Linked DNA regions of Homo sapiens: regions 1 and 2 are each linked to region 3. The links come from fine-mapping of genetic effects on gene expression. A gene starts in region 3. Each other region holds a variant in brackets. All regions are shown on one strand. Distances are from middle to middle.

What was found.
Region 1: its variant is fine-mapped to the expression of MYBPH in whole blood (TOPMed, PIP above 0.99).
Region 2: its variant is fine-mapped to the expression of MYBPH in monocytes (TOPMed, PIP 0.97).

The regions. Positions count from the first base shown.
Region 1 is chr1:203,197,798-203,205,975 of GRCh38, forward strand. No RefSeq gene overlaps it. Among named protein-coding and RNA genes, the nearest start is that of CHI3L1, 15 kb to the left of the region's middle. The variant G/C (reference allele first, on the strand shown) is at 4,888.
Region 2 is chr1:203,113,534-203,121,711 of GRCh38, forward strand. No RefSeq gene overlaps it. Among named protein-coding and RNA genes, the nearest start is that of ADORA1, 10 kb to the right of the region's middle. The variant C/T (reference allele first, on the strand shown) is at 4,996.
Region 3 is chr1:203,171,273-203,179,450 of GRCh38, forward strand. MYBPH (myosin binding protein H) reads right to left here and starts at 4,554. Exons shown (of 11, transcript NM_004997.3): 1 at 4,279-4,554; 2 at 4,055-4,189; 3 at 3,158-3,325; 4 at 680-768; 5 at 111-306. The coding sequence starts at 4,483. It overlaps CHI3L1 (chitinase 3 like 1), which reads right to left. Exons shown (of 10, transcript NM_001276.4): 10 at 7,659-8,178. The coding sequence ends at 8,173. RefSeq lists enhancers at 2,689-3,218, 6,136-7,335.

The DNA of each region.
Region 1 (8,178 bases), 27 kb after region 3:
CTCTGCCACTTGCTGACCTTTTTAGCATGACTCAGCCCCCTTGAGCCTCAGCTCCTCACAGGATTGTGGTAAGAATTCAGTGAGGTATGCATGTGAGGGTCTGGCACGGAGCAGATGCTCTGAGGAGGCCGGTTCTCCTTCTCCAACCCCACCTTCATTTCTGGCTCTCCCATGAGATTTCCACCCTCTGCAGTTGAGATGATCCTGTGGCTCCCCCACTAAACACTGAATTTGGAAAACGCATACAGCAGAGCTACATGGATCCCTTTTGCCAGAATGGAGATGGGTCAGATAGCAGTTATAACTCCCTTTAAGAGCCTTCAACATTAAAACAGGCAACTAGCCTGGGCGTGGTGGCTCATGCCTATAATCCCAGCATTTTGGGAGGCCAAGGCAGGCAGATCACCTGAGGTCAGGAGTTCGAGACCAGCCTAGCCAACATGGTGAAACCCCGTCTCTACTAAAAAGACTCAGGTGTGGTGGCATGCACCTGTAATCCCAGCTATTTGGGAGACTGAGGCAGAAGAACCCCTTGAACCCAGGAGGCAGAGGTTGCAGTGAGCTGAGATCTTGCCATTGCACTCCAGCCTGGGTGAGAGAGCAAGACCCTGTTTCAAAGAAAACAGGCAAATAAAGCTATCTTCAGACTCTCCATCCTTAGGAGTACTTAGGGGACCAGGCCTCATCCTTAGGCGACCGGGCCCTTTGGCCTGCGATGAGATGAGAAGGTCCTTCCTGAAGCCTGGAGATGGATGCGATTTGAGAACAGCTTATGTGGTAAGGAGGCTGTGGTAGAGAGAATAATGGCTCCCCAAAGATGTCCATGTCTTAGACCCCAGAGCCTGGAAACATGTAACCACACATGGCAAAAGAGACTTTGAAGATGTATCTAAGTTAAGAGTCTTAGTTGGGGAGGTTATTTTGGATTATCTGGGTGGGCCCAATATAATCACAGAGGTCCTTATGAGCGGATGATGGAGGGTCAGACACAGAAAAGGGGATGTGACAAGGGCAGCAGAGGTAGGAGTGATGTGCTCTGAAGATGAAGGAAGGAGCCACGAGCCAAGGGATGCGGGCAGCTTCTAGAAGGTTAGAAAGGCAGGGAAATAGATTCTGCTCTGGAGACTCCAGAAGGAACACAGCCCTGTGGACATCTTGATTTTAGCTTTATCAAACTTATTTTAGGCTTGTAACCTCAAAAAACTGTAAGACATTAAATATGTGCTGTCTTAAGCCATTATAATTTGTGGTAATTAGTTATAGCGGCCACAGAAAACTAATACAGAGATTGTTTTCTCCATTGACAATGAGGAAGCAGAGAGCAGGTGACCTTTCCAAGTCACTTGGCTGCTAAATACAGAGCCTGTACTGGAGCCCAGTCTCTAGGCTTCCTTTGACCAGGCATGGCCCAAGGCAAACCTGAGTGCAGGGAGTGTGAGGACATGCCTGAAAGTGACCTTTCTCCTGCTAGGCAAGGGCCTGGAGGAGGTGAAACCTGCGTGGTCTTCAATGCCCCTGACATTTGAAAGAAAGTGCCAGCTCCTCAATAAAAACATGCTCGAGGCAGACCTACCCAGGTTGGCACTGGATGAAGACCTCCCTGGTGGGGAGAAAGAAGCAGCTGGATTGCATGATCCCTACCCTGTCCCTCGGATTCACCAAGATGCACATTTCCCTTGAGAGGTTGTAGCCAAGGTGGTCTCAGGGGCACTGGTCACCCCTTAACACTCTGGCCCAGGAGGTGGCACAGTCCTCCCCCTGAAAAGCAGAGCCTGAGCCAAGGCATTCAGATAAGACTCAGGGGAGGCTTGAGGGTGAGGCAGGGGAAGTGCACGCTTTGAGGTGGGTCCTGGACAGTCAGACGTTCAAGCTATGCTCGACTCCTGATTCCATACGGAGGGCGCCATCTGTTTAGGGACCCCTGTTGAAAGATGCACCCCTGCTCCCAAGTCGGGGCCCTCTTCCATCTCCCTAAGGCTAGTCTTCTGAGCTCTGGTTTCCAATAAAGATACAACCTTTCCCCAGGGATTGGAGCTGGGCACCTCCTCTTTGTGGAGACAGAGCTCTCTATCTACAGACATGACCTGACTCATCACTCAGGCCACAGCTGAACCGAGAGAATATAACAGTCCCCCAACATCCACATCACTTCCACACTTCCACTGTTTGGGTAAAGCATTACATTACTCTCTGGAGCCCAGAGTCTTTTGGCTGAAAGACTAATTCACTCCATTATTCATCCTGAGGGGCAAGGGAGACTTGCTATGGGTGCCAAGTGCCCAACACATGCTATTCCAGTCACAACCCGCCCTGCCGAATGCTGGAATGGAGGTGTTGGCCTTATCCCTCTCAGTAGGTGAGCAAACGGAAGCTGAGAGAGGATCAGTGCTTTGCCCAAAGTCGTGCACATTTTATGTGGTTGAGCAAGACTTGAACTGAATTCAGCTCTTTCAACACTGAGTGCGAGGGTTGTTTAAGTAAGGCTGCCCTCATGGGATAAAAGGAGAGTGGGAGGAAAAAGAGAGAGAGCCAATATTGTAAGAAAATTCATGAAACACAGTGGGACAATAGGACAGAACAGTTGAAACTGGGACTGTCCTAGATAGCTGGTATAGATCTTGCCAAGAAAGGAAGTCAGAAGCTAACTATAGACTGAGGACCACGGGTGTAAGAACACGGTCAGTCCCTGGATTCTGCCACTTCTCCTTGTTGGTAATTTTCCATTCTCCCCACTGCTCCCCTGCAATGACTAGCACATAAACCCTGAAACTGAAAGGGACAGCTAGGAAGCAGATAGCCAGTCTTTGTCCAGTTCTGCAGCTATTTTAGGGAGAGAAAGAAACTCAACAATATGGTGTTTATGAGGAAAGTTTTGAGAAAACGTAAAAATAAGCGGAAAGGAGAGTGAATCTTTGGTGGCTTAGAAGGATAAACTAAAGAGCTCACAGGAGTCTGCCAGGGACTAAGGGCAGCATGTGTTCATTCTTTCAGGAAAGAGTTACTGAGCCCCTATTAGGTGCCAAGTCCTGGGCTAGGGTGGGGAGAGTGAGGAGTGGAACCTCCTTTAGTTAGGACAGTCAGGGAGGCTTCTCCGAGGAGGTGATCTTAAGCAGAAATCTGAGGGATGAGAGGGAGTCAGCTACCTCAAGAAGAGAGAAAATGATCCAGGCAGAGAACACCATATGCAAAGTCCTGGAGGTGAGAAAGAGCTTAGTGTGTTGGAAAAAAAAAAAGAGAAAAGCACAAGCAAGCTGACCAGCTGGCTAGAGTAGTTTGGGGATGTGGGGAGAGACAAGAGGCCCCGGGGAGAGAGGCAGGTCTGTGTCCTGGGGCCTGTGGAAACCACAGAGGGGTTTTGTCCTCTGTGCAATGGGACACCACTGGATGTTTAAGCAGGTAGTCCAGGATAGAGTTTATGTTTTGGAAAGTCACTCTAGTGGCTCTGTAGGGAATAGATTTGTGGTATGGCAAGAGTGGAAGAGGCATGAACATAAGCAGCTGTTAAAGAGGTCCAGGCAAGAGATGCGGTGGCCTGCCCTGGGCTGGGGACGTGGAGGTGGAAAGAAGGGTGGACTATGGACATTCCTTGGAGGGAACATCCGCACACTTACAGATGAGTTGGATGTAAAAGGATGAGGGAATAGAGGGACCAGGAACCACCCAGGGGGTCCTACCTTTAGCAAGGTGGACAAGGTTGTGCTAATTGTTTAATGTGAGGAATTCATGGGGTGGAGATAAGTTTTAGAGTAGGGGGTCTGTCTCAGCCATATTAAAGAACTGTTTATGCCTTATCTGGGTAGAGAGAGCAAGCGGGCTGGTGGATACATGCATCTGGAGCTTGGAGGAGAGGTCTAGGCTGCGGATACAGTCATTGGTGTCAAGATGCTATTTAAAGCCATGGGAACGGATGAGTTCACGTAGAGCAAGAAGGGCAGAAGCCCATGCCTGAGCCCTGAGGCATCCTGACATTTAGAGATCAGGTGGTGGAAGAGACCCAGAAGGTACAACGGCAACTATATCATTCAGCCCGACATCCACAGGCCCTGCAGGTTCAGCCCCAGTCTGCCAGGTGCTAGGGCCAGCAGAGGAGGGGGACAGGGCCCTTGCCCTCAATGGGCCCAGGGTCTATGTAGAAGGCAGTTGTTGAGCCAATACTTACAATATAATATGGTAAAGATGGGCCCAGGAGAAGGAACTAGAAGAAATGACTGTGGTCCCAGGTCCCAGAAGCTAGGGCTATGACTGAGTCTGGGAGGGGCCATGGGCCTCAGAAAGATGGAGAGAAAAGTTGCAGAGGGCCAGGCGCGGTGGCTCATGCCTGTAATCCTGGCACTTTGGGAGGCCAAGGCAGGCAAATCACGACATCAAGAGATCAAGACCATCCTGGCCAACATGGTGAAACCCCGTCTCTATTAAAAATACAAAAATTAGCTGGGTATGGTGGTCGGTGCCTGTAATCCCAGCTACTTGGGAGGCTGAGGCAGGAGAATCGCTTGAACCTGGGAGGCAGAGATTGCAGTGAGCCGAGATTTCGCCACTGCACTGCAGCCTGGGCGACAGAGCAAGATTCTGTCGAAAAATAAAAAAGAAAAGAGGCAGAGGCTGGGAACTATTCCAGGTCTGGCATCCTTCCCTGAGACCTCCAAGTCCCCTTGAAGCTTGTTGCCCATCCTTCCCTTCCGCTCGCCGCCAGCCTCCCACCCCACCTCCTAGTCCGCCTCCAGTTTCTCCACACTGCCCGATCTTCTTCCAGCAGAGCCCCTACCGCTCATGAGTAACAACATGGAGCCCTGCTCATTCCTCATTCCCATTCCTACCCCAGGCCTCCAGGTCTCCACCCCTTCCCTGACAGGCCAGCCTTCTCAGGAGATGTGTTTTCTACAACTA[G/C]GATTAACTTGACAGGAAAATGACCACAGCCTGAAGCCTTGCCCTCCATCAGGGAGGGATGCTGTCTCCAAAACAGTTGCTTCATTTCCTGCTGTTGAGAAATCATGCCTGTTGACCAGCTTACATTTCACATTACTAAGAAAGGAGAGAAATCTGCCCTGCTGAACTTCTTAGACAGAAACTTGGTTAACCCCCTGGGTTTGTGGGTGAGGGTCCTGCACGAACCCCCTTCCCTCCTGTCAGCTGCAAGTGCAGCGGCTGGGCTGCTGGTTTACATTGCTGCCTGGGTCATGGTGCCCACTCAGTTCGCTCTCTCCCATGGCTATGTGCAGTCCACAAACCTGGACCGTTTGGCCTCAGCCTCTCTCCATCCTTATCCCCTCCTGCCTCCCGGGTCTTCGCGTGCCTGGTCCAGTCTGGACACACCCTGGCCCTCAATCTGAGGTCATGGCTCTGAGTCTCATGGCTGACTGCCTGAGACTGCAGTGAGGTCTGAACCCTCATTCAAAACTCGATCTCAGTTCTGTTGTTTCTTTACGTTAGGGTCCCCACAGATCATCCAACCAGAGGAAATTTCCTCTGAACATATTTAATTTGTTCTTTTTTAATTGTTTATGACTCATTTAATCTTGAATTATAATACTTTGTGGGCATGCCTTATCCCCTCTCTTCTAGACTCTATAAACTCCAGAAGCTCAGGCCTTGAATCTGGAGTCAAATCTCATTTATCTTCATCCACAGTCTCAGCCAAGAGCTTGGACATGCTTGTGGAATGGATGAGTTTTGATTAGAATTGTAGAAGGAGAATTTGAGCTGATTGATATGGGAAATGCAACCTAGGGATTGATTTGTTGGTTCTGTACAAAAAAGTACCACTAACAGCTAGGAGCAGAGTCTATAAAGGGGATAGAGAGCAGTTCATTTATTCACTCGTTCATTCAACAAACACATATTAAGCATCTACTATTTGCCAGAAGTAGTATTAGATTCCGGAGATATAGTAACAAACAAGGCTGATAAAGTCCTGGTCACATGGAGTTTCTCTTCTAGCTCAGAAAGACGGATAGTCAACAGCAAACAAACAAACAAACAAAAAACAAAACAAAACAAAAAACACCGCGCAGCAGTAAGTGCCATGATAATAAACAATTTGGAGTGATGTGAGAGAGTGACAGGGAGGTGGTTGAAAGGACTCTCTGAAGAAGTGATGCTTAAGGGGAGACCTGAAGGGTAAGCTGGGCTGCTATGGGAAGATCTGGGCATGGAAAACCAAGCCCAGGAAGCAAGAATAGATCAGACCAAGTTTTGAGGTCAGGGCAGGTGGGGAATAGAGATGGGACGAGTTTAATGGGTTCAGAAAACAGAAAGAAGGAAAGAGTAGCTGGATCATTTGTTCATTGCCTCATGGTGATCAAGGGGGCAATGAACAAAGATAATCAACAGTTCAATAGGAAGATAATGGCAAGGTAGACAATACAAATGGTATAGTATCAACAGCAGAAGCTTTGATCTGCGGATGAATTGGAGTCCTGGCCAATTGTTATGGTGTGTGAGCTTGGGCAACTTTTCTAGGTCTTACTTTTCTCAAGCCTAGTTTTTAGAGTTCTTGCAAAGATGAAATGGTATAATAGAAATGAGCATCTACCAAATGACTTTGTGTAAATGGTAGCCTACAATCCAGGTAATAATCTGAAAACCAGCCTTACAAGATCAGGGTTGACCAGAAGCATGGAGCAGAAAGTAATGACCCAGCAGCTGGGCCTAACGAGCCCTCCTTGCTGCTCCTAACCTCATCACCCTCTTTCCCTCTCCTTTCCACTGGCCTGCCCTTTCCTGCCCTTCACGTTTTCCTTATTTTTCTCTAGTCTTTCTCCTTTTCCTACCACAATTTCTCACTCTTTCTTTCCTTTACATTCTTTTAAGTCACACCATCTCAACTGCCTTCAATTTGGAAAACATATTCTAACATATTGATCATGTTTATTTTGCATGGTTTTGTCTTCCTTTAAAAATCAGGTGTTCTGAATGTTTTATACATCTTTCCTAATTAAAAAGAAACAGCAGCAGCCACATCAAACTTCAGTAATTTTATACAGTGATGTGGCCCTTGTATGATTATGATTTTCCACTGAGGTCACTGCCCCTTAATAGAAAATGGCTCCCACCACTGGATTAAGGGATTAGAAAGAGATTGTCTCAAGGCATTTAGGGTCTGGTGTGCTGGGAGATCTCTCCACTGGCAGGGAGGGGAGGTCTGGATGTGTTCAAAGGTCAGTGGCCTCTGAGTCACTGCAGGGATGCTCTGGAGCACAGCCTGGGCATCTGGCTCCACCGCTGGCTGGCTGAAGCTCAGTGGTTGCTGCAGATGTGGAACCCGAAAGGTGGAAGGGCAGGGAAGGCCTGTGGGGTCAGCTAGTGCAGACTGAGATCCTGAGGAATCTGTAAGGACAGGCTCTGGTGTGAAGTGCAATGTAAGACACCCTCCCTCCCATTGTTCCAGGCCCCTGTGCTTGGCCAAGAAAGGACAAGTTTCCTCTGCAAGCATGCGTGTTGCACAAGGGTGGGGTGTGTGTGTGCGTCTGCTCGTGCACATGCATACACGTGTGTCAGGAGGAGGAAGCCATAGAGCAAGTCCCCCATGTTTAGCTCAGGATGATATTGCAAGGAGTCTTCTGGATGGGGGATCAGGGTGAAGAAGTGATGCTTGATGCCAAGTGGAGACTCTGACCCTCCCTTGCTTTCCTTATTTTCTGAGAAGAGGTACCCAGTGGCTGGCAGTGGCCAGCTGTGGCCAGTAGGTCATCTAGTCCAACCTGCCGACTGTACAATGGGACACAGAGGACTTGGGATGAGAAGTGACTTGTCCAGGGGGCAAAGACCTCTTGATCTTCCCTCCATACCAAGTCACATTTGCGTCCAGGCGATGGCAGTAGGAAGATGGTGGGGTGACATTCCTTCTGTACTCTGACTTTAGGGGTCCCAGATGTCGAACATGAAGCCCTGTCCTGGCTCATGTTATGGAGCCAAGTCCCTTCATACTCCAGGGTTGGGTGAAGTAGCTCTGGGTTGTGCAGCAGAAGGCAGCCCAGGACTTAACCGTGGGCACAGATAAGCCACATGTGGCATACAGAGAGCTAACTTTAAACATGGAGAGGGTGGAGGTTTCCACCTCTAAGGAGGCCCAAGTAAGGTCATACGAACTAAGGCTACAGCTTGGCCATCTTACTCTAGATGCCAGGAAGGAGCTTAGGGAAATAAGGGCACCAGCGGGTGGGTCTGGGCTGGTTTGGG
Region 2 (8,178 bases), 58 kb before region 3:
GCCGCAGCCCCATTGGCTTATCTCAATCATAGCTATTTTCACATTGATCTGTAACCCTCTGTCTTCCCTGTTAGGACACAGACTCTCTTTGATCTCTGAATACCCAATTCCATAGCAGGCCCTCCAAAGACACTGGCTGAATGAATGAACGAATGAAGTTCTGTCGTTTCTACCTAAGAATTTCTTGAGTTATCCTTCTCCCCTCACCCCATTGACTGCCCAACATAGGGTCCTACTCTTCTCAACAGAACTCTTACAGTAACTTCCTAACTGATGTTCCCTCTCTCCACTTTGCCCTATTCCCACTCACTTTCCTCATTGTCTTGAGGGTTATCTCTCTAAAGGACAAATCAGAGTGTGCCTTTGCTCTGATTAAACCCTTCAGTGCTTCTCATTGCCCTGGGGATAAAGTCAAGGCATCATCTCTTGTCTCTGTCTTTCCTGAGCCCTGTGTCTAGCCATATGAATGGTAGTGTACGTGGTATGGGTGTGTATTTAGGCCCCAGTTCCTCTGCACGTGTGCCTTTTACCTAGGATGTCACTGCCTTTTCTCTGCCTGGAAATCTCCTGTCCATCCTTTGAGCCCCAGCTCAAATGTCCTTTGATCTGTGAAGACTTCTGGGACCCTACAGCCTCCACCTTTAGAGGATTAGATCTCTATTTGAGCATTTGTGGGCTGGCTGTCATAGTTTGCTCACGTATCTATGCCTCCATCTCTCCCCACCTGACTAGATTTTCAGTCCCTGAAGAGCACAGTCCTGAGCTCGGTATCCCTAGCTCCTTGGCAGGCTTCAAAGAATACAAGAGGGAAGGAGGAGGGAGATCCCATCTTCTATGAACAGTGAAAACTGTTGTCGATCCAAAGGGTCTGGAAGAAAAGCCTGCATCGACCCTGTGACTGACAGATCTGCTGAAGACAGCCCAGCCCTCAAACGTAGGCTTGACGCCAACCTCCTTCTTCTCATCTCCCTTCTTCAACCCTCTCCTCTCATTCCTTCCTTCACGCCCTTCTTCCCTTCCTCCCTTTTCCCTCTTTCTGTTTTATTCACTTTCCTTTCCTGCCTTCTTTCCATTGCTGTTTCACTTTGGCATTAATCATATATTGCACAAACCATATTATAGCAATATTAATGGAAGTAAGTAAATAATAGTGCCCCCACAATTCTGCTACTCCAACAAATCAGATTGGTTTCATTTGTCTATATTGCCTTCCCATGTCTGTATGCCCACATCATTTTGCATAGTTGTCATCATAATGTAGTTTTAATTTTGTAGTCTACTTTGTAACTTAATATCAGAAGCATTTTCCATGCTCCTGCATAATCTTCACAATTATTATTGTAATGGCTGAGTAATATTCCATTGAATGGATATGCCAAGTTTTACTTAACTGTTTCCTTTCTGTTGGACAGTTCCAGTTTTTCCCTGTTGCAGAGAGTGCTGTAATAAATAAGCATGTTCTTTTACTTCTTTCTCTTTCTTGCTCCTTCTGTTCCCTTTTTTTTTTTACCTTTTTCTCTCTTCACTTTTTTTTCTTGTATCTCCTTCTGCCTCCTTGACTGCAGCTCTCTCTCCTACAGCAATAATTTGCTTCTGAGTGGATACAGAAATCATCATAGTGGGACCTAGGGTTTTGAGAAAAATTACTAAAAATTTGTAATAAAATGTTCCCAAGGACACTTTTGTTACATTTGTGCCCTTAAAAAGAATTAAATGATAAATCTTTTTGTTCACAAGAGGTAGGAACACAGGACCAGGTGGGACCAGGTAAGACCAAATTGGAGAAGGCTAAAATCTGTGACAGGGACATGTTTATTTGTAGTGGGAGAAAATGAGACACAAATGCCTATCAATAGGGAAATGGCTAAACAAACTATGATGTGTTTATGCTAGAATTATGTATCATTTAGAGATTGCAGAGCTAGATGTACTGACTTGATAAGACTTTTTTAGTGAATCTAGCTGCAGAATATTTGTAGTTTACAATTCATGTAAAAAATAACAAAACCCAAACCCATGATAGTACTACATTTTTTTTGAATATATATATATTTGCATATATAAATGTGTGTATAGGGGTATATACATACTCTTATTTATATGTAATGTAAACATACTTGTGTGTAAATGTACATATACACACACACTTATATTATGCAAATACATAGAAAAATTCCTGGAAATATACACATCAAACTGGTAACAATGGTCACCTCTGCGTTTAGATGAAAGGGTCTTGATTTAGGGAACTGGTTAAATGGAATTTGAGCCTGAACTACAGTGGTTTCACTTTTTTATCAAGGAAAGCGCATTCACATATTGTTTGTATAATGAAACATTAATTGAAAATGTTGCCACTGTTGTGTCTTTCTGCTTACCATCTTGCACTGACCAGCTTCTGATTTAGGGGCTTGCCATCAACAAGTGAAATGTAATAGGAGAATGCTATTAAATATGCAAATGTCCTTTGGGAAGTGTGGGCTTTTTGCTTTTTCAGTTGTAATGTTGGTCTTTTAAGACAGTGCTGGTGGGCCTGGGGCAGGGGAGAACAAGGCCTGCTCTTCCAGGAGATAAGGAGCCCCCCAAATCAGGCATCATCCCAGCCAGTCCTTCCCGCCCTCTCCTGGCAGGTGGAAGTTGGCGGGGGTTGAAGTGTAGTCCCTTGCACTGAGTCCTGGCTGGAGGACAACAGATGGGGCCACACAGCCCTGCTGCTCAGACCGAGGGGAACAGGTGGAGGTTCCAGGGTCAGAGTGTGAATGCTGGCGATTCATGAGTGGTGCAGGTGGGCAGAGTGCCAGCTCAGGGGCAGCGACAGCTGGGCAGCATGTGGGCAGGAGAGGGAGTTGGGCAACGGGGCTGGGAGACTGGGTGGGTCCAGCCATGGAGGAGGAGGTACTAGAGGCCAGAGAACAAGAGAGGGAAAGAGGGGGAAACCCCCTCAGGCTGGACAGGAGTGAGGTCAGAGGTCCCTGGCTGACCTGAGAGGCTTAGGAAGCTGCAGGGTGAGTGGACATGCTGGTAGAGAAGGGTGCCCCTGCTCTGCCTCCTCTCACGTCTCCTTTACCCCCAGCTGTCCCCTACCTAGCCCTAACCTGAGGCATTTGGGCCATTGCAGCAGCTGTGCCAGCCCTTTGGCACTGTCAGGGCATGGGCAGGGGAGGGACGCAGCTGCCACCCACCCCCTTGCAGATAGGGGGTGGGAACGCAAGGAGGTGGCCAGGTTGGAGAAGACTCAAGCACGTGATGGGGCACTGCACTTTTCTCTCCAGAACTACCTGCCCATGTACCCTTCACCCCATTCTCTTTAGTTAGGTGTTAGGGTAGGAAAGGTAATGATCATTATTAGCATTTACCAAACACTCGCTGTAATGCAAGGCACAGTGCTGTTGATTGTATAATGTATCACTGAATCCTCCCAACAGCCCATTAGGAAAGTATTATAATTTCTATTTTACAGATGAGAAAACGGAGGCTTCTTGGTTCAGTAATGTGCACAAAGTCACACACTAAGAAGAGACATAAGTGAGATTTCATGCCAGATTTTTTGGCACTAGAGACCAAACTTAAAACCTTTGAGGAGTATTGAAATAACAGAGAGTTCCATGCCCAGTCGAGGGCCAGCCGTCCCCCAACAAGGGGTAACTTCTGGACGTGGTGGATGGGTCTAAGTTAGCCCTCCTCACTGTGGGAATTGTAGAGCAGCCAGATGAAGTGGGGTGAAAGTAAAGGAGCTGGAAGCCCGGGCCCGGTGACTCACGCCTGTAACCCCAGCACTTTGGGAGGCCGAGGCGGGTGGATCACCTTAGGTCAGGAGTTCAAGACCAGCCTGGCCAACGTGGTGAAACCCCGTCTCTACCAAAAATAGAACATTAGCTAGGCGTGGTGGCAGGCACCTGTAATACCAGTTATTTGGGAGGCTGAGGCAGGAGAATCGCTTGAACCCGGGAGGCGAAGGTTGCAGTGAGCCAAGACCACGCCATTGCATTCCAGCCTGGGCAACAAGATCCAGAGAGGAGGGAAGTGTTCTCTTGGGGCTGGGTTAGATTTGCCTGGAAACGGGAGGAGACAATGCTATGGGAACAAAGCACTTTGGACTGGACGTCAGGAGAGCGAATCTGTCTCTTCCCTCCAAGGGAGCGGGTCTGCTGGGCCTTCTTAGGCGCCGTCCCTTTTGGCCTTTCTGCAGGTGAGCTCAGGAGAGGCTCGGGCAGGTGGGGAGCTGAGGCGCTGCCTGTTTCGTCTGTTCTGGCCCATGATGTCGGGTGAAGCATCTCAGCTGAAGCCTTGCGCAGTGCTCCGCCAGGCGCTATAATGCTGAGCCCAGCTATGGCTCCTCCTTCTTCTCCCTTCCGCGGGAACCCAGCACCTAGCGCGGCGGAGCAGGGAACTCAGGCTGCGGGACTGGGGTCTGGCCCTGCCCAGCTCCTCGCCCACGCCCAGGCTTCCGTTAGGCCAGCAGGGGGACCCCGAGCCCCGGACAACAGCCCTGAGCTGGGCGGCTGCTTCTGGCTCTAGATCCCGCTGCTCAGCCGATCCACCTTCCCCACCTCCCTCCCCCCAGCCTCAGTTTCCTCCTCTGAGAAATGGGAAAATGATTATACTTATTTCACCGGCAATGCTATGATAGTTAAATAATTCTAAACCATAAAGCGTTGTGAGACTTCCTTCTTGTACTCTTGAAGTGTATTATTTTGAACATTGAACATTCAGTCAATGTTTCTTGAGCTCTATGCCCCGGGAGCTATTTTAAGCCCTGGATGAAGTCTGTCCAACTCGGGCCGGGGATAGTGATTGAAATAGAAAAGCTCAGTAAGTGAAGGGCTCCTCTGTGTCTCCCACCCCACTTGACGAGCCAGATGGAGTGAGTGGCTTTTAACTGTAGAGTGGACCCCTCTAGCAAGCTGCTGTTTGCTTTTCTGGTGTGGAAGGTAGGACTTTGGGATGAGCCCACAGAGGACCAGGGAGCCCAGGCCATCCACTACCTCTTTATCC[C/T]GACCTGAGGAACGTGCACTTAGCGCAAATTCCCTTCCTTCCATGCCCAGTGCTCGCTGGTGACAGGGTTCAGGGCAGAGGGGGTGAGGCAGATCTGAAGGGAATGATTCTAGACTAGCACTTTGAGTTCTGCTTAACATCAGGGAGTTGGGGCCAGGATAAGACTGGAGCTGAGGGAATGGGCTGAAGCCGGAATCAGTGGCCAAGCCTCTGTGACCAGTTCTGATTCCTGAGTATAATGAGTGAATGCCTAGTGTTTCCACACCTGGCTTCCATCGCTGCTGGGAGGGGCTTCACTCAGAGAAATAACTATGAGAATGTGTACATGGTGGGCTCTCCTGCAGGCTCTCAGGGGACCCAGGGATACTGGCTGAGGACAGGGGCCATTTCATCCCAGTTAGCTTTTTACTGAGTGGAGCAAAAACTCGTTCCTTCCATGAAGCCTCTGGCTTCAGTCTCAGCCCTTACACCCCAGGACATGGTCCATGAAGCACCTAGTTAGGACTTCAGAAGGATGAGGTGATGGTTCACGTGGAAGATGTTGCTTTTCAGTTCCTTCTGTTTCGTTCCCTCAGTGGGCTGCAGACTCTCTGAGTGGGCTATTGTGATGAACTGGAAAGAACCTTGGAGTGGAAATCAGGAGGCCTGAGCTCACGTTTCAGCTCCAGCACTCAGTGGTTTCAGGCCTCTCCTTGAGCCTCAGTGTTTTAATCTGGCAAAGGGGAGCATAATAGCTTCCCACCCAGGTGGGGTGATGATACAGGGGATAAATGTGAGAAAGGGCCAGACATGTGTTCTGCCTTTTCTTCTGTCTGTATCTACCCTAGAAAAATGAAAACACATCCTCACACAAAAACCTGTACGTGGGCCAGGTGTGGTGGCTCACGCCTGTAATCCCAGCACTTTGGAAGGCTGAGGTGGGTGGATCACCTGAGGTCAGGAGTTTGAGGCCAGGCTGGCCAACATCGTGAAACCCCGTCTCTACTAGAAATACAAAAAATTAGCCAGGTGTGGTGGCTCACACCTGTAATCCCAGCTACTCAGGAGGCTCAGGCAGGAGAATCGCTTGAACCTGGGAGGCGGAGGTTGCAGTGAGCCGAGATCACACCATTGCACTCTAGCCTAGGCAACAAGAGTGAAACTTCGTCTCAAAAAAAAAATAAAATAAAAAAACATGTACACGAATGTTCATAGCAGCATTATTCACAATAACCTAAAAGTGGAAACAAGCTAAATGTCCATCAACTGAAGAACGGATAAACAAAATGTGGCTTGTCCACAGGATGGAATACTATTCAGCCTTAAAAAGGAATGAAGTATGGATACATGCCACAGTTCAGATGAACCTTGAAAACATTATGGTAAGTGAAAGAAGCCAGTCACAAAGGACCATGTATCCTATGTATCATATGATTCCATTTATATGAAATGTCCTGAATAGGCAAATCCATGGAGGCAGAAAGTAAATTAGTGGTTGCTAGGGATGGGTGGTGGAGGGAAGGGTTGGGAAGTGACTACTGATGGGTGCAAAGTTTTTTTGGAGGAAAGGTGATGAAAATGTTCTAAAATTAAATGATGGTGATGGTTGTACAATTCCATAAGTAACTCAAACCACTGAATTGTGCACCTTAAATGGGTGAACTTTATATTATGTAAATTGTATCTCAATAAAGCTGTTAAAAGTTTTTAATTGGGTGTCCTGAATTTAGTCTGGCAGCTTCACTTCTGCCCCTCCTTCCTTCTTTTCTCTAGTCTTGACAGCCTTCTTCTCCCTTTTGGAACATATAGAAGATAGTGGGGGTATTTGTCTTTCTTGAGGGACAAGGACACCTCTTGATGGGTGGGGAGGAATAAGGGAGCGATTAGGGAGTCAGATACCAGGCTGCCTCACCTCCAACAGATATCATCATCTCCCCTGCCTCAATTTCCCCTTCTGCCTAGTGAGGGGAGGGGAAACAGAGGATTGCTTGCCTTTGAACCCTTGGAGGTGCTGTCGGAGGAGTCCAGGAAGGTGGGGTGCATTTGCTGGCTGGGATGGGGTGGGCTGCACAGGACAGCATGAGCGCTTATGAGTCACATGGTGGATCTCCCAGACAGTGGTGGGGTGGCAGGCGGATTGCCCAGAGGCACCTCTTTGGCCGCAGACAGGGGCAGAGAAGCCAAGAAATCTGTGACTGGTGCCCCGTGGGCTAGGGTTAGGGGTAGGGGCTGGGCCACAGGCTGTCAGATGAAGAGGAGCTGGTGCTGGGAGAAGGCTGAGTCTTTAATGGAGCTGCAGCATGGCTGGCCAACTGCTGGCCTTGTGTCAGGTGGGGGGGTGGAGGGGCTTCAGGGAAGGGCTGGGTTGGGGTTGAAGACCTGGGAGCCTCTCCTTAGGACCCAGTGGCAGTGGGGGAGGGCTTGGAGCTGGTGAAGAGCTAGATACTTCCAGGTCTGGGGACATCCAGAGCTCTGTGCCCAGCCAGCTGTCATTAACTGCTTAGCTCCTTGGGGTCTGTGCTCAGCTTCGTTTCCCTCTGATTCATCTCTTCCTTGCCACTGCTTCCCTCCCTCAGACTGTAAGCATGCTCAGAGCTCCCCATCTAAAACCAACCTCTTTTTGACCCCTCTCTCCTGCAGCTCACCATCCATCTTTTGTTCTCATCCCTGCCAAGTTCTTTCAAACTAGACTCATCTGCACCCACGGCCTCTACCTTGCTTACCTGCTGCAGCGTCAACCTTTGAGAGGCACTCCTACTCCCCCATCCCCTGAAGCTTCTTTGAGGTCTCCACACCCTTCTTTTCATGAAATCCACCACATCCCCCTCAGACCTATCATAGCTGCCCTTCAGCCCTCAGCCCCGAACCACTCAGCACCCCTGCTTCCTGAAATGTCTGGTAGCCTGCTCCTCCCCTTTGGCTGCCCTCCCTCTTGATTACTGTGGGCACAGCCCAGCTTCTCCACAGCCTATTCTCTGCATCCTCTCCTGGGTGGCCTCATCTCTCCCAGGGCCTTGACTGTCACCTCCATTGCGATGACCCAGCTCCAGCTCCGATCACCCTTTGGCCATTTCCAGAAGGCTGCTGGACCCCTCCCATGGGCACAGCCAGCCCAACCTGTCCAGGAGTGGACTTCGTATCCCATCCCCCATCCCCCCAACCAGCCTGTCCGTCAAATCTCCCTCATCCTCCTCAGCATTTCCC
Region 3 (8,178 bases):
TGGCTCTTGCCACACTCCCTTGGCCTGCTCCCATCAGCCATCAGCTCTGGGATAGGAGGTTGGGGGCTCCAGGTCCCCCATGAGACAGCACTGTTCCCCTGGCTCCATACCAATCACCAGGATGTCAATGACTGCCTTGGCCTCCAGGTCTTCCACGCGCACAGTGAGCTCGTAGCGGCCAGAGTCGGAGCGCTGGGCCGAGCGAATGAAGAGGATGGAGTCCTGGTCCCCGGTGCGCATGCTCACCCGCTGGCTGTCCAGGGCATGGCCGTTGTGGGTCCATGTGGCCTGAGGCTTAGGCTTCCCCTGGCAGGGAGGAGCCCCCAGGGTGAGTGTAGGGAGGTGCCAGAGTCCCCACACCTCCTTAACTCCAGGAGTCTCTGGAGCTGTTCTCGGGGAAGCCTGTCCCACTGGCCCTTCTCAGGAGGGGCAGCAGAGGCTGGAGCCACAGGTGCTGCCCACAGCCACATCTTCCAGGTGTCCATCCCGCTCTGGGGGCCCACCTGCCCATCCACAGGCTGAGAATCACCAATGAGTCATGTGCATGATTGCGGAAGGATGAAGCCGTCTCGCTGGGTCTCAGCTGGACCCTTGGAGACCCTGCCATCTCCCAGGCTCCCCTTAAATGGGGGCCCTGGTTCCCACCCAGGCTGTTACCCTTGGTGGGGGTAATACCCACCTGGAAGGGGATTTGCAGGTTGACCGTCTCTCCCACCTGGCGGATGTAGGTCTGACGGAGGTGGCGGGGGACACGGATCTTGGGGGCCTCTGGATCAAAGCAAGAGTCTGGGCTTAGCAGTGCAGTGGGGTGGCTGATTGGGGTTTCTGAGATGGGGCAGGGGACAGCTGGTGAGGGATGCTGGCTGGGAGGAGGGTCCTGGGTGTGCCTGGCTGCCATGGGGTCCCTCCTTGCAGGAAGGGTGAAGCTCTCACTCCTGAGGTCTAGGGGCCCAAATCCCTTAAGGGAGCAGGAGGTTTCAGGAGGTCAGCGCCTCCATGGTGTGAACTGGTAAGCATCCTGGGCACTCCCTTGGCGCCTCGACTCTGCCAGGATGGGATTTGTCCTGCAGCCCAGGCATTCCCAAGCACCAGATGGGCCCCAGCTGACTCTCTGTCTCCCCCTGCTGGGGAGCAGGTGCTGCACCTGTCAGGCTGCACTTCTAGGAAGGGGAGGCCACTGCCGTCTTCCTGCTCTAATATCCCCAGCTCTCCACAAGCCCAGGACTTTCAGAGAAGCCTTTGTGAAACCCTGTTTGTCCATTCCTCTGTCTCCAGGCCCTATTGAAAGGTTTAGGATCTTTCTCTTCCCAAGTGAAGCCAGGGCGGGTATCCCCCCTTCTTCCTCTGTCACCCTCCCAAAATCTGTTAGTCTCAGAGCCGGGAAGTCCTTCTTGAAGTCCTATTTCAGCTGCCTGCTATGCTAAGGAATGACATTCTGACCCTCATCTGGTCAGGGGCAACCACTGAAGCCCCTGGGCATTCTAAGGGAAGCTGCAGTGGCCACCATCCCTGTCCCCTGGGGTGGGTGCTGGGTCCATGACTGAGGCTCCTCAGCAGCAAACAGGTGGCAGCAGTTGGTTGGTGGCATGCAGGGCGGAGGAGGACAAGACAGTGAGAAGGAACACGGTGTCTCTGAGGATTAGCTGAGTGGGCACTTGGCTCTGGGAGCTCAGGCATGGAATGCTCTAGGGACAGCTGCAGGGGGTCAAGAATGCTTGGCAGCTCCAGGTGGCCAAGGAGAGACAGCTGAGCAGCCAAGGATCCTGGACAGGGCCCCCACTCTGCCCTGTGATAAGCCTGGCTGTTCCCCACTTGTTCACAGCCTCCTCTCCCTCTTCTCTCCAGGAAATCCCCTTCTCTCCTGCCAGAGGAATTTGAATGGAGAAGTGGGTGCTGAGTCTGGCTGGGTCCATCAATGCTGGGCCTCAGGGGCCTCTCAGAGTCTGAGCTCCCTGGTTCCCTGGGGAAGGCCCAGCACCGTCCCAACCAAGAAGCCTTCCTGGCACCTCCAGGACTAGGGTCGACACAGCCATAATGCAGCTGCCTGGTGGGGCCACATCTCACCTAGAGCCAAAGGCTGGGAATTAGGGTTGGGAGGCTTGGGTTTTGGGTGCCACCAGAGAAGATGCTCTGCAGTGCAGTGGGACATGAGTGGTCCTGTGTAGGCATCAGACTCTGGGACTGCCAATAAAAGGCTGGGTGACCTCAAGGGATGCCCTGGGCTCCTTGGGATCTCCTTGGGCCTTGATAATCTATGAATCTAAGCTCCCTAACCCCATGGTTCCCATGTCTCTCAGGCCTCAGAGCTGAGCATTTCCTTTCGAATCCAGACTTGACCCCTCCTGTGGATCCCCTCTCCTTCTGGAGGCCTTGTCTAGAGCTACCAGAAATCATCCATCCCCTAGTGGAGGAGCAAGAAGGAAGGTGGAGAAGGCTTCAGGCCACCTGCCTGCCTGTGTCTCTCCTCACCCTGGGGGACTGTGCTGTCCCCAGAGACCTCAGATCAGACCAAATGACTCACTGTCATTAACAGACTGAAACCCGATCAGCTCCGGGAGGGGAGCGAGGGGAGGATTGAGGCTAATGCACCTTGCAAATAGAAATATTAGCAATGGGGATGGCAGCTGGCCTGCGGGGCCCCAGTGAGGTATGCCCTCTGCAATGGAGAAGTCTTCATGGGCCTTTTGCAGACCTTCTTTTTCTTTCCACTAGGGCCATGGTGGAACAAGGGGCAAGCAGCGCCTTCTCTCTGTTTCAAGACCTTTGAGAGAATCTGGAACCCAGGCCACAGGAAATGGGCAGAAAATGAGCATTTATGGCCACTGGAGAGATTGAGATTAGATGGGAGATAGAACAGATGGACTCTTAGCATTGAGCAGGTGACCCAGGGAACTTGACCTTTTGTTTCTGAGCCCCTTTCTCAAGGCGTGGGGGCTGGACCACTCAGGGAAATGGCTTCTTAGACCTCCAGAGGCCCCTTACTGCTGAGGAACCTGGAACTTTCTTAAGGCAAGATGGTGATAGCGTGTGGCTTGTGCATGTGAGCGTGGGACGGGGGAAATGACTGCCTGGTTCCCTCTACCTGCTGGCCTCAGTTTCTCCATTAGATAAGGTGTTTGGGAAGGGCTGGGTAGCTGAAGGCCAGGATGGGCTTTACCAATGTTCTCTCGGATGTGGATGGGCTGGTCCAGCATGGCCGGCGGGCCAGCCCCTGCAGAACTCACTGCAGACACGCGCAGGAGGAACTTGTCTCCCAGAGCCAGGTTCCGCACAGTCTGCTGGGTCACCATCATGGGCCGGGCACTCACAGGCACCCACTCCGAGGCTGAGGGGATGGAGAGAGTGTGAGGTCTTTGCAATGTGGCCACAGGCGCCCCTCTCCATGGGGCTTCTTTTCCTGCTGGTGATCTGGGGAAATCAGCCTCCCTCTCTGGGCCTCATTTTCCCCTTGTTTGCCTTCCCTGACTTCTTGTCAAATGGCATCAAAGACACCTGATGTTAGAGCCCTGAAATTGTGGCTAGAGATGAGGTTGTTGAAGCCCAGAGAGGGTTGGACACATTTGCAAAGTCACACAGCAAGGTAGGGGCAGAGGCAGAGGCCAGGCTGGACTTGGGCCATGGAGGGGGACAGTGGCAGCAGGGATGTGGCCCCCACACCCCCACCCCATTCCCGCTTTCTCCTCACTGTCTCTTACGCTAACATTCCCCTCTCCAGCTCCTCCCTTTCCACTTCCTACAGTTCGGGGTCCTCTGAGACTTAGCACTTCCTTCCCTTCTCACCAAAGGAGAACCCAGTGTCCCCTTACCCTTCCCTTACTCAGAAGCTCCTTGGAGCTGAGGACAAGGGAGCCCCTCAACCCACCCACCTACCCTTTCTTGCTCTCCTGCTGGTGGAGCAAGAAAGGGCAGGTGGGTGGGTTGAGGAGCCTACTGCTCGCATCCCCTCCTTCTGTATCTCTCCCAGACTGACCAACCACAGGGCCTGTGCACTTGTCCCTGCAGCCCTCCATGACAACCTCCCCTGGGTGTATGCAAGACTTAGCCCAGCACTCACCTCCCTCTCTGCAGAGCTCCAGCACATAGCCCTGGAGGCCCAGCCTCCCCAGCCTCTCTGGGGGCTCCCAGCTCACAGTCACAGAGCTGCTGCTCACATCATCCAGGGTCAGCAGCAGTGGGGCACTGGGGACATCTGGGGAGATGAAGAGGTTCATGGCCAAGAGCTCCCCTCCACCCCTGACATGCCTGCCTCCCTCCTCCCCCTGCCCCACCTTCAGTCACCTTCACTTGGGGGTGCAGGCTTAGTGGCTGTGGAGGCTGTAGGGGCCTGTGGGGCAGGGGCCTGCGGCTTGGGCACCTGCTCTTCTCTGGTGGACTCTGATACTGCCACTTCTCCGGGAGGCTCTGCTGTGGGCACCTTGGCAGATTCAGATGCGGTCTCCTCTGGACTGCAGGCAGGGCCCTCGGAGGTGTTTTTTTCCATCATTGCTGGACTGGCTGGGGGGCCAGGGTGGAGTGTGCAGGGGTCAGCCGTTGGGGGGCCTGGGCCTCTAGGGTGCCTGGGACACCTAGGTCCAGGCTTATATAGTCAGGGGCTGCCCCACCCCCAGCAAACGATTCCCAGCTGTGGGGTCAGGTCAAGCAGGAGGACTGGAGGGTGGAGAGGCGCCCAGGCCAGGAATAGCTCTGGGGGAGGAACCACAAGGGCCCCTTGAGGAGTCACTTCCTCATCCATCTCCCCGACTGGCCTTCAACAGCCAGGGTGCTGGTGCCCAGCTGGGGGAGGGCGCAGATGGGTGAGATGGGACATCGAGCAGGCCGCGTGCCAGGTGTCAGGGCAATAGGAGGAAGAACTTCTATCTGGAGAATGAGCCCAGCTCAGGCTCTGTGTGTCTGGCGTCTATGGGGCCACTTGTTCCCAGAGCTTCTCAGACTGGGTGCTGGGGCCCTGACAGTTTGGGACAATCGTCCTTGTGAGCACTCCCAGCTTTGCCTCTGGGGTCCACATTCCCTGGGCTCCCACAGTTCCCAGGGACTCTCGCCTGTGCTGTATGAGGCTGAGGGCCCTAGAGAGGGAGGGAATTGAGATGCTGAGGGTGGAGCTGCTCAGAGGATGGTCCTCCAGCATTGGAACCCCAGGAAGGGGCACTAAGTCTCCTGGCTCCTGTCTCAGTTGGGCGGCTGGTAAGGAGCTCGTCTCCCCTGATGCCTGCTGTGGGCCTCAGTTTTCCACCTGTTACAGAGAACCCCTCGCCCTTCGGGATGGGTTGCAGTTGTAGGCAGATCTGGAAGATGCCCTAGTGGAGGAGAGCACTCTGAAGCTTCTAGACTCTTCCAAGCAGGCTGTGGGCATGGGCTTTCTCAGTGTGCCAAAGGAGGCAGATATGGCCAGATTTCTAGTCATTGATTCATTTGTTCGATAAAATGTTAAGACTGGGAATCACTGGAAAGCCAGAAAATGCCATGTGTCAGGAAGGAGGGAGAACATTAAGAACTTTTATTGCTGGTATTGGAGCAGTCACTCTGGAAAATGTGAGAGTTTTACTAGTGCCTAGTAAAATGGATGAGGTGCCTACTCCGTGACCCAGCCGTGCCGCTCATATAACACCCACACATGCCCCAGGAGACATGGAGAAGAAGGTTCATGGCAATGTTATTTGTAATTGTTGAAATGTGGGGGAAAACAGCTGTCCCTCAACAGTGGGATGGATAAATAACTGTGGAGTGTTTATGCAACTGTAAAGCAAAATATGGGGTCAAATGAGCAACTTCAGCTACTCACAGACCCAGTGATGAGCAGAAGAGCAAGGCACACAGAAATGTTGCGTCTCATCTGTCTCATCTACATTAAATCCAAATGCAGTCAACACCAGGCTCCCTTCTTCAAGGTACATCCGTAGGCGGTAAGGCCAGAAAGGAAGATGAGGCCAGTACAAAAGTTAGGATGGCGATTGCCTCTAGGTGGAGGAACAGGGATATCTGTGATCGTGAGGGCTGCAGGGGTGCTAATGAGGTTTCCTTTCCTGACCTGGGTGGTGGTTACACAGGTTCTTACTACATAGTTATTCTTCAAATTAAACAAATACATTTATGCACTCTTTAGCACGTAAGATGTGCTCACAATTTAAAAATAAGTAAAAGTGATTTATTCAGGGCCCTCAGCAGCATGCATGCTCTTCCCTTTCCTGAGGACTGGGGACACCAGGGTGTGGCTGCCTCTCAACCCTGCTGTCTCTGCTGGGGAGTGGCAGTGCAGGGCCTGGGAGCCTCTGGATCTGGCCCTCCCTGGATGCCCTCGCCCTCTGCTAGGTGACTCCACGTCTTGCCAGGCAGGGAGTGGGTCCTGGAGACTGGATCTCCATCCTTGGCCTCTGACTCTGCAGCTATAAGTGAATGTGACTAACCCCACAGGACACTGAGTCAGCCCTGGAGAGCCTGTCCCCGGCTGGGGGAAGGGTGGCCCCAGGGGAGGGCAGTTGGCTGCCCACAAGGGCTTGCAGCCCTGGGGTTTCAAAGATGCCTGTGTGGTGGGGTGGGCAGTGGCAGGGATTAGGGAATACTTGGCCCCACCAGCCAGAGGTGAAATGCCGGGTACCCCCTCCCCACACCCCACTCCACGCCTTGCCGAGTCCTTGTTTTCTTCGCCTTCAGCAGGGCTGTGACCTTGGGATCAGTAGCATCTGCCCAGCTCCAGCTGGTTCAGATTTCAGATATTTCCTCCTTCCCTCCACTTCAAACCGGCGTCACAAACCATCAGGCCAATTTGTGATTATCCTAAGTCACAGATAATCCAAACATCAGAGAATCCACAAATCAATTCTCTTTAGTTCTGGGGTGAGTATCTGGAGCCTTTTTGGATAAAGGCATTCCTGGGGCCCTGGGAATTCAACAGAAGCCTGATGAGAGCGTCTCCACCTCATAAAGGCTGAAAATCTGTCTATTCTTCTGAGTCACCCCATCACATCCTCCCGACCTCCTATCTCAGGCCAGCTTGAGCAGAGGTACTTTGATCTCTGAATGGGTGGAGGGATGAGTGTTAGGGGAGGGGTGAACAGAACAAAGGGCTAAGCCCAGCACTAGGACTATTGACAGATTTCAGCCCAGCCACGGAATGGGTTGCTTCCAAGGTAATCGGCTGCCCCTCACTGGGAGGCTGGAGGGCCATCTCTCAAGCACTCTGCAGGGACTCCAGTCCCGAGAGGCAGGAAGGGTGCATGAGATGACATCTGCATTTCCTGCTGGCCCTGAGGGTCCAGGGTTCAGGGCTTTCTAACCTGGTCCTGTGATGAGCTCCCACCACCTTCCTGTGGATCAGAAGAGAGGGAGTGTTGGGATGAAAAGCCTTCTTTCCCAGGGCCTGCTAGCCTTCAGGAAACAGAAAACGTTTCTTTCAACAGGGAATTTAATTTAGAAATCTGGATGGCAATGACTTTAATATTTGGAAGGCCATCAGCCATGCTTGGGTTAAGTCCAAGGCAGGTGAATCTGAGGACGCTGGCCTCCCACTGGGGCTCTCTGCGGCTAGGCAGAGGACATGGCGGCCTCATCTCTGCAAGCTCAGGGGTCCCAAGGCTCAGAGGAAGGAACCCAGAAGAGATGGGGGAGGTGAGTCCAGTGGGTCTAGTGGGCGCTCAAAGATAGACCAAAGCAAAGCGCCAACACACTGTTAAGCTCTTGTACTTTATTGAGCAGCTGTGGAATTAGGAAGGGGAAGTAGGATAGGGGACACGATTACGTTCCTAAGTGAAGGTTTCAAGCTGGGCTTTGCAGGGGGTATAATTAGTATGGTCACTGTGTCTTGTAGGATGTTTGGCTCCTTGGTGATAGAGCTTGCCAAAATGGTGTCCTTTGATAAGGAGGGCTGGGGGGCAGGGAGTTGAAGAAATTCCCTTGCCAGGCTTGGGGATCTGTAAACATTTCCATTAATCAACAAGTGTGTACTAATCCCGAGTCTTACATTGCGATGCCTCACTATCCCCACAGCCCCATCCCTACCTCTCTGCCCACCAGGGCTGAGCTCAAATCTGTGTGTTGTGGACCTCTGCATAGGCCCCAAGGGAGGGAGACTGAGGCTCAGCCTGGGACTCAGCAGGGCAGGTGATCAGGCTCCCGGCCAGCTGGAGCCAGAGGGGGACGGGGCATCCTTGGCCCCCGTGCTGTGTGCAGAACAGAGGGCTACGT